2 linked regions of the Homo sapiens genome follow. The protein of the gene in region 2 interacts with the protein of the main gene of each other region in a pairwise test. Each region holds a gene or a part of one and is shown on either strand. Other genes may lie near its edges.

Region 1 (7,000 bases), on a different chromosome or scaffold from region 2:
GGTGCTCCCTCAGCCCCAAGAGAGCGCAGTCTCTCATTCTCCAGCCCCAGCCTTGTGGGCTGTCCCGCTGGTGCTGTCCTTTAGAACCCCTACAGGAGAGTTTTTTGCTCAAAAAGCTGCAGGTCAAAACGGACCCAGACCTCCCCGGTGGGGACCTCATGCAGCAGCAGTCGGCGGGTCATAGGGCCTTTGCTTTCCTGTTCTGTTCGAATTTTTGCCACTGGAATTTCAGTACGACCCAGGAAATCTGGTGAATAAACACAGGAGAGTCAGAAGTCTTTCTTCTTTATAAAATCATTAAAGAGCTACATCCGGAAGAAGTGGATTCATAAAACCTTCAAATCTGAAACAAGGAACTTCTTTTGGCTCATGGCTGTTGAATGTCGTGAGTGGGTGTGTGGGGAATGATGGCAGGTTTGTGTGTGAGAAGCTGCCACATGGAATTCAAATCTCCATTCTGAGAATGCTCCAGGAGTGGTGTTCACGTCGTGTGTGTAGGGAGTGATGGGTCAAAGACCTGAAACACATCTCAGGCCACCTCCTCCCCTGAGGAAGGCCACCCACCTGCTGCCAAAGCGAGATGACACAGGCCTGTGTCACTTCCCTGAAGTGGCATGGGGTCTGCACACAGCTGAAGCCCCTAGATCTGGACTCCAGGATCTAGGAAACTGGGAAAGCCTTTAGATCCCCTGGCTGAGCGACACTTACCATCTGGTGAAAACTGGTCTCTGTCAAACAGGGTGAGACACAGCACGTCTTGGTAGAGATCCTTAATAAAGAACTGGCAGTTAAAATTCCACTTGGGATTGAGTGTGTCCTGGATGGTCCTGGTGGTGTAGCTCTGGGAGCCCATGCTGATTTCACAGTATGGGTTGCTCTTTCCTGAACAAAAACAAACCACAGACACATGTGGTGCATGCAGGTAAAACGAAGCGACTGACAGTGCCCTCCCTGAGCAGAAGCAGGATTCCAATAATGGGTCACTCGAGACCATGGCAGCAGGAGCCGCTGCCTGGGGCACCATATCCCTGTGGTCTAGTAACAGGGTCTCCAAGTTCCCAGTGCTGACAGCAGCATTAACTGGGGAGTGGCCGAGAGCTCCACCGCCAGGACCACTCCGCACGGAACAATCCTGGGTGAGTGTCACTGCAACCTGCTGCATGCTTCCTCGGCGCAGACACACTCGGGAAGGCGGGCACTGGCACTTACTGGGAAAACAGTGATAAGAATATTGGTCCAATATGCGCATTTTAGTGGCACTGGACACACTGTTAGAAAGCATTCCTTTATTCAGTGTTCAGAAGAGTCATCAGTGGCTGGGCGCAGTGGCACTTTGTCAGTGACAAAGTGCTGTAATCCCAGCACTTTGGGAGGCCGAGGCGGGCAGATCACTTGAGGTCAGGAGTTCGAGACCAGCCTGGCCAACATGGTGAAACCCTGTGTCTACTAAAAATACAAGAATTTGCCAGGCGTGGTGGTGCACACCTGTAATCCCAGCTACTCAGGAGGCTAAGCCTTGAGAATCACTTGTACCCCAGAGGCAGAGGTTGCAGTGAGCCAAGATCGTGCCACTGCACTCCAGCCTAGGTTATACACTGAGACTCTGTCTCAAAAAGTCATCAGCAAAAACTGGGGCAGGGCAGTTATGTCTGCTGAATGAATCAAGGCAGTATTTACCATTTGGTTTGCAGGCTTTTAATTCTGTAGCTTCAATGACATGCACCATCAGGCGCCCAATGCCTGAAGTCTTTTGGGAGCGGGCTACAAAAGAGGAAGACAAGTCTCATTAATCTCTTCTCCAAGGATGCAGACCCTGTCTTTCAAACCAACCATAACACTACCGGCTCCCTGTCCCCATCTGCCACTGCCCTGGGCCCAACAGCCCAGCATCTGGCTGCCCTGTGCCTTTCCCCAGGCTGTGTTGCCTGCTAGGAAGCCCCTGCTTGCTCTTTCTGCCCTGCCTGCTTTCTCTGCCCGTCAGCATCCTACTCATCCTTCAAGATGCAGGTCTGATCCCACATCTACCTCCCAGATCCCTTCCCTCCTCTGCATCCAGTATCCCTCGCTTATGAGCAGCCCACAGCCTGCTGGGTCTGAAATCGTGTGTAATGTCTGTCTCCTCTGCCAGACAGGAGCCAGGGTAGAGCATGGACTGTTTCGATCATCCTTATATTAACCCCTCAATTGCCTAGCAAATAGTAATATTAATAAAATAATACATGGTATTTGTGCAGCACTTAATAGCAGCTAACATTTACTGGATACTTACTTTGTGTTAGGCATGTGCTAGACTTATGTAAATTATATTATTTAAACTGCATAATTACCTGATAATGTAGCTCCCCATTTTACTGATGAGAAACACTGAGGCTTAGAAAGGACTGGAGTGTGATCCACTCAGAGCTGCTAAATGGCAGGGTCAACATTTAAACATCAGATACCAAAGTCCAGGCTCAGTTAAGCCTAGCACAGAGCCTGGCACAAAGTAATTGACAAATGTGGGAAGGACTGAACGCACGGACGATGCACAGCAACATATGCAGATGCTGATGGGAAGCAAAACTCAGGCAGAAAAACCGGATTGACATCTTTGGCCAATTAAGAGATCATATGCGTTATGAAATGATCAATCATTGATTTTTCAACAGCAAGCTTTTAAAGTACCATTAAAATAACACTAAATTAGCAAAAGCTGTTTTAAACATACCTTTTAGGAGTATATAACAAAATGGGGGAAACCTGAATAAAAAAACACATAAAGAGCTGCAACTATAGCAGCCAGGAAGCTGGTGGGAGGCCCAGGCAGGAGGGCAGGCTGCATGGGGGGGCCCGGCGGGAAGGAAGGTGGAGATGCAGGGGGCCGGCGGGGAGGAAGGTGGAGATGCAGCTGGCTCAGAGCACAGGCCCCCTGTGGGGTGGAGGCCACAGGCTGGCCTGGCACAGCTGGAGATGCAGCAGGGAGGTTGGGGCCTGGCATTCATGTGGAGGCTGGAGAAGAATGTGGGAGCTCTGGTCTGAAGGCCACGGTGGGGCAGGGTGGGGTGGGGGGTGCTTTACAAAGACCATTGCGGCTCCACTGAGCAGGTGAGTGATCTGTGCCATGAACACAGAGGACATCACCGGTGCAACAAATCTGGAGCCCCACTGGCATAAGTCACATGCTGGCCCCGATGTGGGAGGGAGTTGCCTTGAGGGAGCTTATGGCCATTAAGTGAGAAAAGCAGGGACTGAGAGGGCGCAAGCAGAGGCAACAGAGGATGAGCGCCCGGAGGATGATCGCAGCCTCAGGACAGCGGGGGGTCCAGGTAGAAGTCACACTGGTTAGGGCAAGAGGGTGTCATGGAGGAGGCTGTGTTTGACGTGGGCCTTGAAGGATGGGAAGAATTTAAGGTGAGGGCAGAGCACTTGAGCTGGAGGGGGAGCTCACATGGGAAGGCCAGGCAGGGCAACAATGGGCTGCTCAACTAGGCAGCTGGATGGGCCGGGCACAGGAAAGAGCTAGGGATGGGGCTGGGTGGCAGGTAGTAGTGGGGATGGGCCCTGAGTGTGGGGTAAGAAATGTGTCGTTAATTTGGGAGGCAATAGGGAAGATACTTCAGCAGGAAGAGGTATAAGAGCAGCTCTGGAAAAAAGAATACTCCAGAAATGAAGAGGATGGGTGGCAGAGAGGAAAGAGAGCCTTGTGCTGCAGCCTGGGTGGGAGATCGGGGGCCTGTGATACGGGGACAGGAAAGGGCGATGGGAAAGTGGCGAGGGAGGAGGACTGCAGTGCAGCTGACCAGGTGTGAGGTGCCAGGGAGGGGCCTGGGTGGCCAGGGACCACACTACTGTCCACAGAGGGTCCCAGGAGGAGCTGCTGCTGGAAGGAGGCTGGTGGTCCCTTGGGAAAAGCCGATGTGTGATGTGGGAGCAGCGGGGCAGGTGGTTCTCTGGAGGGTGCTGTTCAGAGGCGCGGGCTTGGGAGAGTGTGGCTAGCCTGACCCTGAAGCTGGGGGTCGGTGGGGTCCCCGAGGGAGAGCGCTACAGAGGTCGGGGAGAGGCCTGGGCAAGGGTGGAAGAAGAACTGGGAAGGCGGCCATGGGGTCCAGAGGGAAGGCAGCGCCTCAGTGACTGCCATCAGTGCAGGGAGCTGGGGCAGGGAAAGTGAGCTGAGCCACTAACTAGGCCACTGGTGTCACTGGTGGGGACAGGACGTGGACTGAAGTCTGGTGAAGTGAGAAGGGGGAGGAGGCAGGGGCAGAAGGATGGGGAGAGGGCAGACTTAGGGTCTAGGCCCCCTGGCTGCAAAGGGAGAGGGTGGATGGCAGGCCCTAGAGGAGGGTGAGGAGGAGCAGTGGCTGCTCAGGAGCTGAAGGGAGACAGACCACAGGTGTGGCATGTAATGGAGCACCACAGCCCAAGCAGAGGTGAGGTGAGTCATGGAGAGAAAGGAGTGGAGAAGGTGCAGTGGAGTGGGGGGGATAGAGGTGGTGCAGAGAGGGAGGTCCCGGAGCTGGCACTGCCAGCCCGTGTCTGTGTGGGCAGGAGCCCCAGGGAGGTTTGCAGTAGTAGCTTCAAGAGGGGAGGGCTCTCTGGTCTGATCCCGCAGCAGGTCTGGTCTTTCAGACCCGTCCCTATATCATCAGCCTGACTGCAGGAGCAGTGGCCGGCATTCCTAGGGCCCCTGGGGGCTGCGTCCCACCCTCCGGGCACCCTGATACCTTGGTAAGCTTTCTCACGCTTCTTCTTCTCGGTGTCGATGTACTGCTCAGACGCCGCCTTGATCTTCTGCACCCAGGCGGTCCTACGGGAGAAGCAGGGGCAGCCGTTGGCCGCATCCCACCCTCACAGGTCAGCGTGGAGCCCCAGAGCTCTGCACATGTTCTTCAGTCTTTTGCTAACCTCAACTTTCACAAGTTTCCTATCAAAGACCTGATATTAGTCAACTGAAAGATGCTTATGCTAATGGAGTATGAGAGCTGGTAGTGACCCTTCTTGGCTGACCACAAAATGCCAGGCACTCGCAAGGCGCTGGGACCTGGAGACAGATGATGCATTGGCCCCACGGATGATACCTGTCACGAGGGGTTCTAGCGCACACAGAGGAGCAGCAGCACCCCCCGGGTTGGCGCCGCGGAGGCACTGTTGGAGCTGCAGCCTGAAGGAAGCTGGGAACAGCGGGGATGGCACCCACACAAGGGCGCCTGAGGGGCGAAAGTCTGCAGGTGGAGGGACGAGGGCTGAGGCCTGTGGCCCAAGGAGGCCTCGGAAACCAGCAAAGCACAGTGGGCTGTCGCCTGCGGGCAGCCCCTGCAGGGACTGTAGCAGGGCCTCAGGTGCTGATCTGCCATTTGGGAAGGCTGCTGAGTGGTGTGGGGAGAGACTAGAAGCCGGGAAGCATGTTAGGAGGCAGCTGCAGTGACCAAGGCCTACCATGGGACTGGAGCAGAGGGGATGTGTTAAGAGAGGTTCAGGATACAGAATTAGTGGGGCTTAAGCACGGCTGGAGATGGGTTTATGGCAGAGGGAGACGTCCAGGCCTTCTCCCAGAGTTCAAGGCAGGCCACACATGGTCAGGACTGACCTCTCATTAATGTTGTCTGTTCGGAGGGTGTAGACCCGATCAATGTGGGAAATGTGGAAGACAGGCTCATCGCTGGAAGGGTCTGTGGGCAGTTTCACCAAGACTTCATTCAGGAAAATGGGCTGAAAGAATTAGGGCCAAAACACAGGCTGTGAGATGGGCTAGAACACTCCACCCGCCTATGTCCAGAGAGAGTTCTGTTTGTTCTGAAGAGCCTTGTTGAGAAGGAGAAAGGGGTCTAGCGTCTAAGGTCTTCTACACAGAACAAATGAAACCTCCATTTGTAAGAACAATGAAGCCTCCATTTCTGGAAAAGTCATTATCGAGGTGGGTCAGGTGTTGGGACTGGGTGGGGACAGGAGCTCCAAGCGCCCATGACGGCTGGTGCAAAAGGCTCTCTGCTAGCAACGCTGGTGCTGTGCTGGGGCTCGGCTTACAGAGACCCAATGCTGAATGCACACAGTGGTGAGCCCAGGTGTCACGCTGGCCAGGAGGAAGCCAGAATCTCAGCTGGAATCTGGCTGATGGCCTGTGGCAGGTGGGGAGTGCCCAGCTGCATGGGGCCCTTCCCGTGGGAAGCAGCAAAGGAAGCACGAGCGATCTGGAACCAGGTGAGGAGGGTCCCGTAAGGCCAGCTCAGGGTCTGCCAGGAAGGCCTTAAGATAGAGGCAACACCTCATTAGGCCCCTGATGCTACCCCCAGACGCGTGATACTCACCGTTTTATACATTTTGAATTGAGCATTGGACTTCGAGCTGAAAAGTTTCTCAGAGCCAGAGGAAACAGCAAACTGCTTGACCATGTAGGTAAGAAGCAGGAAGTCATTGAAGAGGAATCCGTGCAGTTCCTTGTTGCTCTTGGTCTTGTATAATTTCCCACTGTGTAAGAGCTTCCGGGGCCCCAGGCAGTTGGTGAGAGAGTTGAAAATAAGTTGCTTAAAGAGAAAGAAAATTTCACTTTTTAAATCCCGGCACAAACCATCCAGTGCCCCTGAGAGGCCAGTGCCCTGGGCCTGAGGATACTGTGGTGGAGTTTTCTAGGTGGGAATGTGGCTAGAATCATTCACTTTGCATGAAAGATCCTTAAATACATTACTCTTCAGAGTCCAAACTGGCCCAGTGAAAATCATTACTTCTAGCCACAGAACACTGATTCTACCAGCTGAATTCAAAGAACTCAAAACAAAAAATCCCAGTGTTCTCTCCTTAGGAGAAAGGAAGATGACAATCCAAGAAGGAATGCCCTTCATGCCTGCAATCCCAGCACTGTTGGGAGACAGAGGCGGGAGGATCACTTGACGCCAGGAGTTCAAGACCAGCCTGGCCAACATGGTGAAACCCCAGCTCTACTAAAAATACGAAAATTAGCTGGGCATCGTAGCAGATGCCTGTAGTCCCAGCTACTTGGGAGATGGAGGCCAGAGAATCGCTCCAACCC
Region 2 (7,831 bases):
GGATGGTTAATGAGTAAAACAAATAAAAATAAAAGGAATGAATAAGAACTGGTACTTGATAGCACAACATGGTGACTATATAATTTAACTGTACATTTTAAAATAACTAAAAGAGTATAATTGGTTTGTAACACAAAAGATAAATGTGTGAGGGGATGGATGCCCCATTTTCCATGATGTGGTTATTACATATTACATGCCTGTATCAAAATATCTCATGTATCCCATAAATATATATACCTACTATGTACCCACAAAAAAATAAAAATTTTAAAAAGTCATGGCTTTTAACAAGAATCTGCTAAACCAGCCATGGAATCAGCACAGTCCATATTTTAATCAATCCCTTGGCATTCCCAAAGTAAGCTTCAATTGCTTTTTATAAGTTTTTGCTGGTTGTAGGAAAGGGTAGACTCAAGGAGAGATAATCTCATGTATTTTCATTAATTCATAAGCATCCCATAAAAAATGCAGAGCATCAGATTTCTAGGTTTAGCTGAGACCTCAAAGCCATCTTCGATTTTGCCTTGCCAGATCACATCTCCTAAGATTTGCATTTCTGAGTGGTTTATAACTTTAGGTGTGTGAAGTAGCGATGGTGACAGTGACATGTTTAGTTTTAAAACTTTTTTCTTTTAAGACGCATGGAATCTCAGAGTAGGAAAGGCAACTAGGTTGTCATTCATTTGTTTTCAGATTAAGATATTGGGGCCCGGAGCAATTAACTAAATTCCCCCACTGGAAAGAAGAGCCTAAGGAGCCAGGGCTAGGATTCAGGTCTCCTCCCTCCCAAGCTGATGCGAGATCCTGGTACTCAAAGCTGGTCGTGGATCAGCATCACCTGGGAGCTTGTTAGAACGGCAGGCTCTCAAGGCCCACCCCAGAGCCAACGAGGCAGAACCCGATTTGCCACAAGAATCTCCAGGTGAGGTGAACAAGTAAGGTTTTGGAAGCACTGCTGTCCCGGGTTTGTTGACTTAGGGTGAGGAGGGGAGGTGTTCTCAGCCAATCTCCTTAAGGTTCGTCCCTCACCTGGTCACAACGCACTCACCACTTTCTCCGGCAAATGTGTGTGCCAGGCTCCAGAGGCGTTCTCTCTTCCCCTCCTTAGAATCATTCAGACTGCGCAGTTAAGCTAGGCAGTCTCCATCTGTGATACACCCAAAGCCTCTCCTGGCGTGGCACATGCTCCCTCTCTGAAAGCAAAGGTATTGACTTTGCAGCTGAAAAAGAGACTGGGGCTTGGGATGGGAGAGGCAGGTGCTGAGGGCTGGGGTCTGGCTGTCCCATTGCCCAAGGTGTCTTGTAAGCCTCAGTTTTACCCACCGTGAGCAGCCACTTAGTTCCCTGTCCTCAGGGCAGAGAGGTGGGAAAGGACACAGGTGAAGAGTTTGGAGGTGGTATCACTGGAACATTCTAGGTTCAGAGCCGAGGAAAGGGAAGGAAGTCATTTGCCTCTTCCGGGTTACTCCCACCAGTCAGTAAGAAGTCAATGTAGAACCACCCCTCGCCTTAGCATTCACAGACAGGCAGCCAGCAGCAGGGGTGAGAAACTGCACGGGAGCCCGTGCTCACCTTAAATTTGGCCATTTTGCTACATCTTGCCGGGAGCCTGGAGCAGCCCGGTCCTCCGCTGGGTCTGAGCAGCAGCCGCTAACAACCTGCCCCCTCCCGCAACCCAAGTCCCACACCAACGCCAGAGCCAGGAGAGAATTTAGAGTCAGAGTTCTGCTCAGGGAGACCACATCCTACTTCAAAGGCCCCTGGGGACATGCATCTTCATTTCCTAGCAGCTGTGATGAAGAAGCAGGCGTGCGGGGGTGAGGCCCTGTCCTCAGGGGGTGTGTGGGCTCACTAGAAACATACAACTCCATCTGAGATGGAAGGCTGGCTTGGGGCACGCCAAGGAGAAGGAGAAGAAGGCATGAGAGAGTGGGCAGGAATGCAGGATGCAGGAATACAACCAGGTGCCCGAGAGCCCCATGTCCTCAAAAACCTGCCTTAGAATGAAGCTCAGACCTTCACACTGGAGCCGTGGAACTTGATCCCACCTCCTGCGGCCTGGGCCTGGGGCACAAGCACAAGCTGCCTCTGTGGCTGACAGGCTCCCAGTGAATCCGCTGCTCCGAGTCACCTTTTCAACCAGGAGGCTTTACAAGCAGTGGCAGCCTGCCAGCCTCGCGGGCCAAGGGCACAGACGGCGCAGCCCACAGGACCTGGCCGGGGCATCTAGCCTCCTGGCGCAGCACCAGACTCACGCTCCGAGGCTGGCTCCTGCCCAGTGCCCCCCAGGGCAAGGCACAGTTCCATCCACCAACTTGGCAGAGCCTCCTAGCCCCCCCCAGAAAAGCCCACAGGGTCAGGAAGACACGCTCTGCAGGAGCCCCAGCACCCTCCCGCAGACACTTCTCCAGCTCAAACCCAGGGGCATCTTGGAGCCGACCCAGTCTAACGTTCTGGGTTTGCCAGGCCTCATGTTCCTTGAGAAGCCTGGGGCCTTGTAGCATCCTTTGCACTGGGGGGCGCTTTCCTCAGCACCTTGGGGCCGCATCAGCCTCTGCTCCCAGTGCTGGGGACATCCGTGTGGAGGCTCAGCTCTGCCCCCAGGAGCGTGGGCTTCAAGCATGTTTCTCCCAGAGATCATGTTTCGCCTTTGTAGTGCCACACCCTCTGCTCAGAAAGGGGCTGGCTGTTTCCCCAAGTGGGAACCTCCTCGATCAAAAGTGTATGTCAGATGAAAACCAAGATAAGCCAGAGACAACAGGACAAAGGGAGTCTTTTTCCATATATATATATATATATATATATATATATATATATATATTCATTTTTTTACATAAGAATGAGATTTTACTGAACATATTGTTCTCTGGAGCCTTCCACTGGAGGTGGAGCCTCAGGCAAGTTCTTAGGCCTCTTGTGCCTCAGTTTCCCCAAGTGTAAAATGGAGATTACTAGTACTTGCCTTGACATAAGGATGAAGTAAGTTAATAAATGTAAGCCACTTGGATCAGCACCTGGTAGGTGGTAAACACTCCACAAATGTCAGCTATTATGATCAAGTTGAACCAAAGTTTATTTAACCAGTGAAAAACTCAAAACAGCTTGCAATAAACATCCTTGAAGCAAAATGGGCTAGTGATCTGGGACTGTTTCCTGAGATAAACTTCTGCATGTAGAATAGCGGATTAAGCACTCCGGTTTTCATTCACCTGTCTAAATTTTCCTCCAGAAAGAAAGAATGACTTACATTTACATGAACAGTGCCAGAAGGCTCCTGCCCGTGAGATCTCGAAAAGAAGCAGTACCCTGAACTGGGCTGTTTCGTATGGACTTTGAAGGTGGACCCAGCCTGCCCACTGACAGCCTCCTGTCCACAGTGTGTGGTTGATGGCACCGCAGCTCTGGGGGCTTTAAGTGTCATGTGCACCCTCCCAACCCAATTTGGTTTTCACCTCGAGGACAGCTGGCCACGACACCAACAAGCCCTGCCCAGAAATGCTAAAGGGACTCCGATCAAATTCCCAAGTCTGAGCCTGAACCAGTTTACCCATGGCTTTAAGGACAATTCAAGTGGAAAGAAAACAGAATATATTCCCCATCCTCAGTGGGAAGGCCGAAGGAGCCCAGCAACAGAAACTGAGCAGCCAAAAAGCACAAAGGGGACCCTGAGCACCCCAGGAACGCTCCAGAAGAGAGACACAGCAGAGAGACACGGGCTGGGACAGGTGCCCAGGACAGGTCTGCCTGAATATCTGTAGGGTCTGGGGCCAGAGTACTCATGAGTGCTGCATCCTGTATGCCCAGCTGTTCAGTTTTAAATCAAGCTAACAAAGTAAAACAGTTAAATAAAATAGGTTCTATCCTCCTACCTCGAAAAGTATGCCACCGTGACTACCTGGAAGGCCAGGTTCATTATGTAGCCAGTGGGGAGGGCGGCCCCAGCCTGGCCACCTTCTCTTCCCCGACTTCCCCCAACCTGGGCTTCATGCCCCCCTGCAGGGAGCCTCGTGCATACACACACAGAGTCCCAGCTAGTGTGTGTCCCGTTCCACCTGTAACATGCCCTTGCCACCCCAACGCCCGGGCCTGGGGTGGACATACGGCTGCACAGTCTGCCTGAGGCCCTGGGAGGGGGCTGAGCAGGCTGCACTATGTGCTTAGCACACTCCAGGGTCTTGAGCAGCAGGAATGTCATCCAGAAAGGGGAGCATAGAGGCCACTGGACATGGCCCTCGGCCCTCTCTTGCCCGGGGCTAGAGGCAGTGCCGTCAAAGGGCCCAGACCTTGTCCTCCCGAGCTCACCAGCAGAGCGCTCCCTGTTCTTCCAGGCTGTGGTCGACCCTTCCCAAGTGGTCACTTTGCTTTTAAAAATGTGTCTTGGCCAATGTCTCAGAATCAGTTCATGCCACCATTTCTGCTGCTGGCCACACGAAATCTGCCAAGTAAATTTCGAACTTGCATAGCATGGTAACTATAGTTAATAATAATGTATATTTTGAAATCACTAGGAGAGTAAATTTCAAATGTTCTCCCTACAAACAATAAGTGGTCAGGTGCAGTGGCTCATGTCTGTAATCCCAGAACTTTGGGAGGCCGAGGCGGGCGGATCACTTGAAGTCGGGAGTTCGAGACCAGCTTGGCCAACACGGCGAAACCCCATCTCTACTAAAAATACAAAAATTAGCCGGACGTGATGGCACGCGCCTGTAGTCCCAGCTACTCAGGAGGCTGAGGCAGGAGAATCGCTTGAACCTGGGAGGCGGAGGTTACAGTGAGCCGAGATCGGTGCCACTGCACTCCAGCCTGGGTGAGAGAGCAAGACTCCACCTCAAAAAAGATAAATAAATAAACAAAGAAGTATTTGAGGTGATGACTACGTTAATCATCTTGATTTAATCATTCCACATTGTACACATATATGATCACTTTGTACCCCATAATATATAATCATCCTAATCTGTTGGCCTAGCACAGTGGCTCACGCCTATAATCCCAGCACTTTGGGAGGCCGAAGCGGGTGGATCACCTGAGGTCAGGAGTTCGATACCAGCCTGGCCAACATGGTGAAATGCCATCTCTACTAAAAATACAAAAATTAGCCGGGCATGGTAGCACACGCCTATAGTCCCAGCTACTCGGAAGGCTAAGGCCAGAGAATCACTTGAACCTGGGAGGAAGAGGTTGCAGTGAGCCAAGATTGTGCCACAGCACTCCCAGCTGGGCGACAGAGCAAGACTCCATCTCAAAAAACGATAATAATTTGTCAATTTACAATAAAATAAAAAAATTGAACTTCTATATCTAAATGCAAGAAAAAAAAAAAAGCCAACCCAACAAATTAGAATCTTGCCTGGCTTTAAACAAACTAAATTTTAGGAGATTCACGTTTTCATAAAAAATACAGGGACAAGTGAAATAAAAATGGCAATATATTGATAACTATCAATGCCGAATGGCAGGTAGACAGGGGATTCATTTTTCCCTCTACTTTTGTGTTTGAACGTTTTCACAATTAAAGGCTAAAAGCCAAGTTTTTGAGCCACACAGCCAAAACAAGAGCCTGGTAAGATTTGAAATCACGATCTTACAGGTGAGCTACAAAAATCACGGGGAAGGCCGGGCGTGGTGGCTCATTGCCTGTAACCCCAGCACTTTGAGAGGCTGAGGTGGGCGGATCATTTGGGGCCAGGAGTTTGAGACCAGCCTGACCAACATGGTGAAACCCTTTCTCTACTAAAAATACAAATATTAGCCGGGCGTGGTGGTGCATGCCTGTAGTCCCAGCTACTCAGGAGGCTGAGGCAGGAGAATCCCTTGAACCTGGGAGGTGGGGGTTGCAGTGAGCCAAGATTGCGCCATTGTACTCCAGCTGGGCAAAGAGACTCCGTCTCAAACAAACAAACAAAACCCGCGGGAGAAGCACACACCATCCCAGTTTGCATTTTGTAAACACTACGCTGAGACAGCCTCCGGCTAGGAGAGGAGGCAAACCAGTCCTGGAGGCAGACAGACCACTGTGGTCCCGGGTCGCTGCTCTAGTTTCCCACGTCAGGGGCCCCGGAACCCTTGCCTGGTCCTACCTGTGGTTTCAACTTTGTCCAGGAGCATTTATAAAATGGTGACTTATTTGATTCTCTGTGGTCCTCTCTAGCAGATCAAAATTCCAGTCCGTGACCAAATAAATCTGGCCATAATGCCTGAGAAAGTGATCTAGGCAACAGTTCAGACTGAGTCCTGCTCTGCCCTGGGGCCATCTCACCAATTCAAACAAAGCTAAACTCGAGACGTGGCCTCGCACAACAGCAGCTGGGAGAACCTGGGGGCCTGGTGTTTACACAGAACCTTTCCCCCCAGAAGCTCAAAGTAATTTAGGGACACCCATTAATTAACTTAATTAATTCTCTCAAGTCTCCTGCCCCATCCCTCCCTCCCTGCTGCCTGTTCACAGCAAAGCCCGGCTGGGCGGCAGGAGGCACGACTTCACTCACACACAGCCCGCACTGTAAACACAGGGACACCCTCAGGCCACCGTTCCTGGGGGCTGTTGGAGAACCTTGAACTTTGGAACACTGTCGCTTACTCTGAAAATACACAAAATCCATTAACAATAAGCACTTTTCCCTAAGTTTACAAGAGACAGAGACAGGAGTAGGTTTTTGTCCCATGTGCAAATAAGGGAACATCTGTTTGCTAATTGTGGATTGTTGGCCAGGGATGCTGGTACCGGCTACGGGGCTTCCCACCTGTGCTGAGAAGGCCAACTACCCTCCAGTCAGGTTCCCGAGACTTCATAAAAGCCTTTTAAATCAGTGCCAATACATTTGGCTTTTCTGCCTCTGGAATTTTTGCTCCCACTGATCTACATAAAAGACAGATTCAGATTCACAACCTAATTCTTTTAGAAGCAGGAATTTGGAATAATTCCTTCAACAATCCTGCTAGCAGGCCAGACGGCCCTAGTGTGAAGAGTTCACTTTAGAGCAGGACAGGTGAAGACAGGTGAAGACAGGTTCAGATGGAAGGAGTCCAGCAATCAACGAATCATGGACCATCCGTTTTTCCTAAAAATCACAGCCCAGTTCAAGCCCCTGTCTCCAGGCCTTGCCTGAAAATGATAAGGAACCACCCAGCCCCTTCGGCGAGAGGTACTTTTCCAGTTAGGATCCTTCAGGAATAAAATGTGCTATGAAGGGGCAGCGCCTGTGGTCATCAGGCCCAGTCCCCTCATCTCCTCTCGCCCCTAGGAAAGCAGCTATGTGCATCCGCAGCGGAGCAGGATGGAAGTTAGAATGACTCAGGGGCCGGGAAAGACCACTACCCACGAAGCAGTTACCACAACTTGTCTCTCAGCCTCTCATTACTAACTGGGAGGGACCCATCACAGGAAAACCACAGCTGAAGAGAAAAGGAAGCTACCCCCGACTCGGAACTTCAAGGAAAGGGTGAAAGGTCAAGATTAGACCACCAGCTACGCCAGCTGCCACAAGTGTCCTGTCCCATACAAAAGTAGAGATTGCAGCCTTCTTGTAAAAATTCACCTTCTCGGGTCAGGCATGGTGGCTCACGCCTGTAATCCTAGCACTTTGGGAGGCCAAAGCAGGTGGATCACCTAAGGTCAGGAGTTAGAAACCAGCCTGGCCAAAATGGCACAACCCCGTCTCTACTAAAAATACAAAAATTAGCCAGGCATGGTGGCGTGTGCCTGTAATCCTAGCTACTGGGGAGGCTGAGGCAGGAGAATCACTTGAACCCAGGTGGGGGTGGCGGTGTTGCAGTCAGCCGAGATCGCACCACTTCACTCAGCCCAGGCAACAAGAGTGAAGCTCCA

The links. The genes of interacting proteins can lie anywhere in the genome.
Region 1: the proteins of SYNJ2 (region 2) and ITSN2 interact in a two-hybrid assay, tested with the Homo sapiens proteins (2 studies listed by BioGRID and IntAct).

What each region holds. Positions count from the first base shown.
Region 1 is NC_000002.12:24,203,537-24,210,536, forward strand, and holds part of ITSN2 (intersectin-2), read right to left. Parts: intron 6,498-7,000; coding exon 6,282-6,497; intron 5,686-6,281; coding exon 5,564-5,685; intron 4,784-5,563; coding exon 4,701-4,783; intron 2,740-4,700; coding exon of another isoform or gene 2,711-2,739; exon of another isoform or gene 2,708-2,710; intron 1,762-2,707; coding exon 1,678-1,761; intron 883-1,677; coding exon 709-882; intron 248-708; coding exon 90-247; 3' UTR 1-89.
Region 2 is NC_000006.12:157,984,421-157,992,251, reverse strand, and holds part of SYNJ2 (synaptojanin-2), read right to left. Parts: intron 1-7,831. UniProt on the Homo sapiens protein: Inositol 5-phosphatase which may be involved in distinct membrane trafficking and signal transduction pathways. May mediate the inhibitory effect of Rac1 on endocytosis.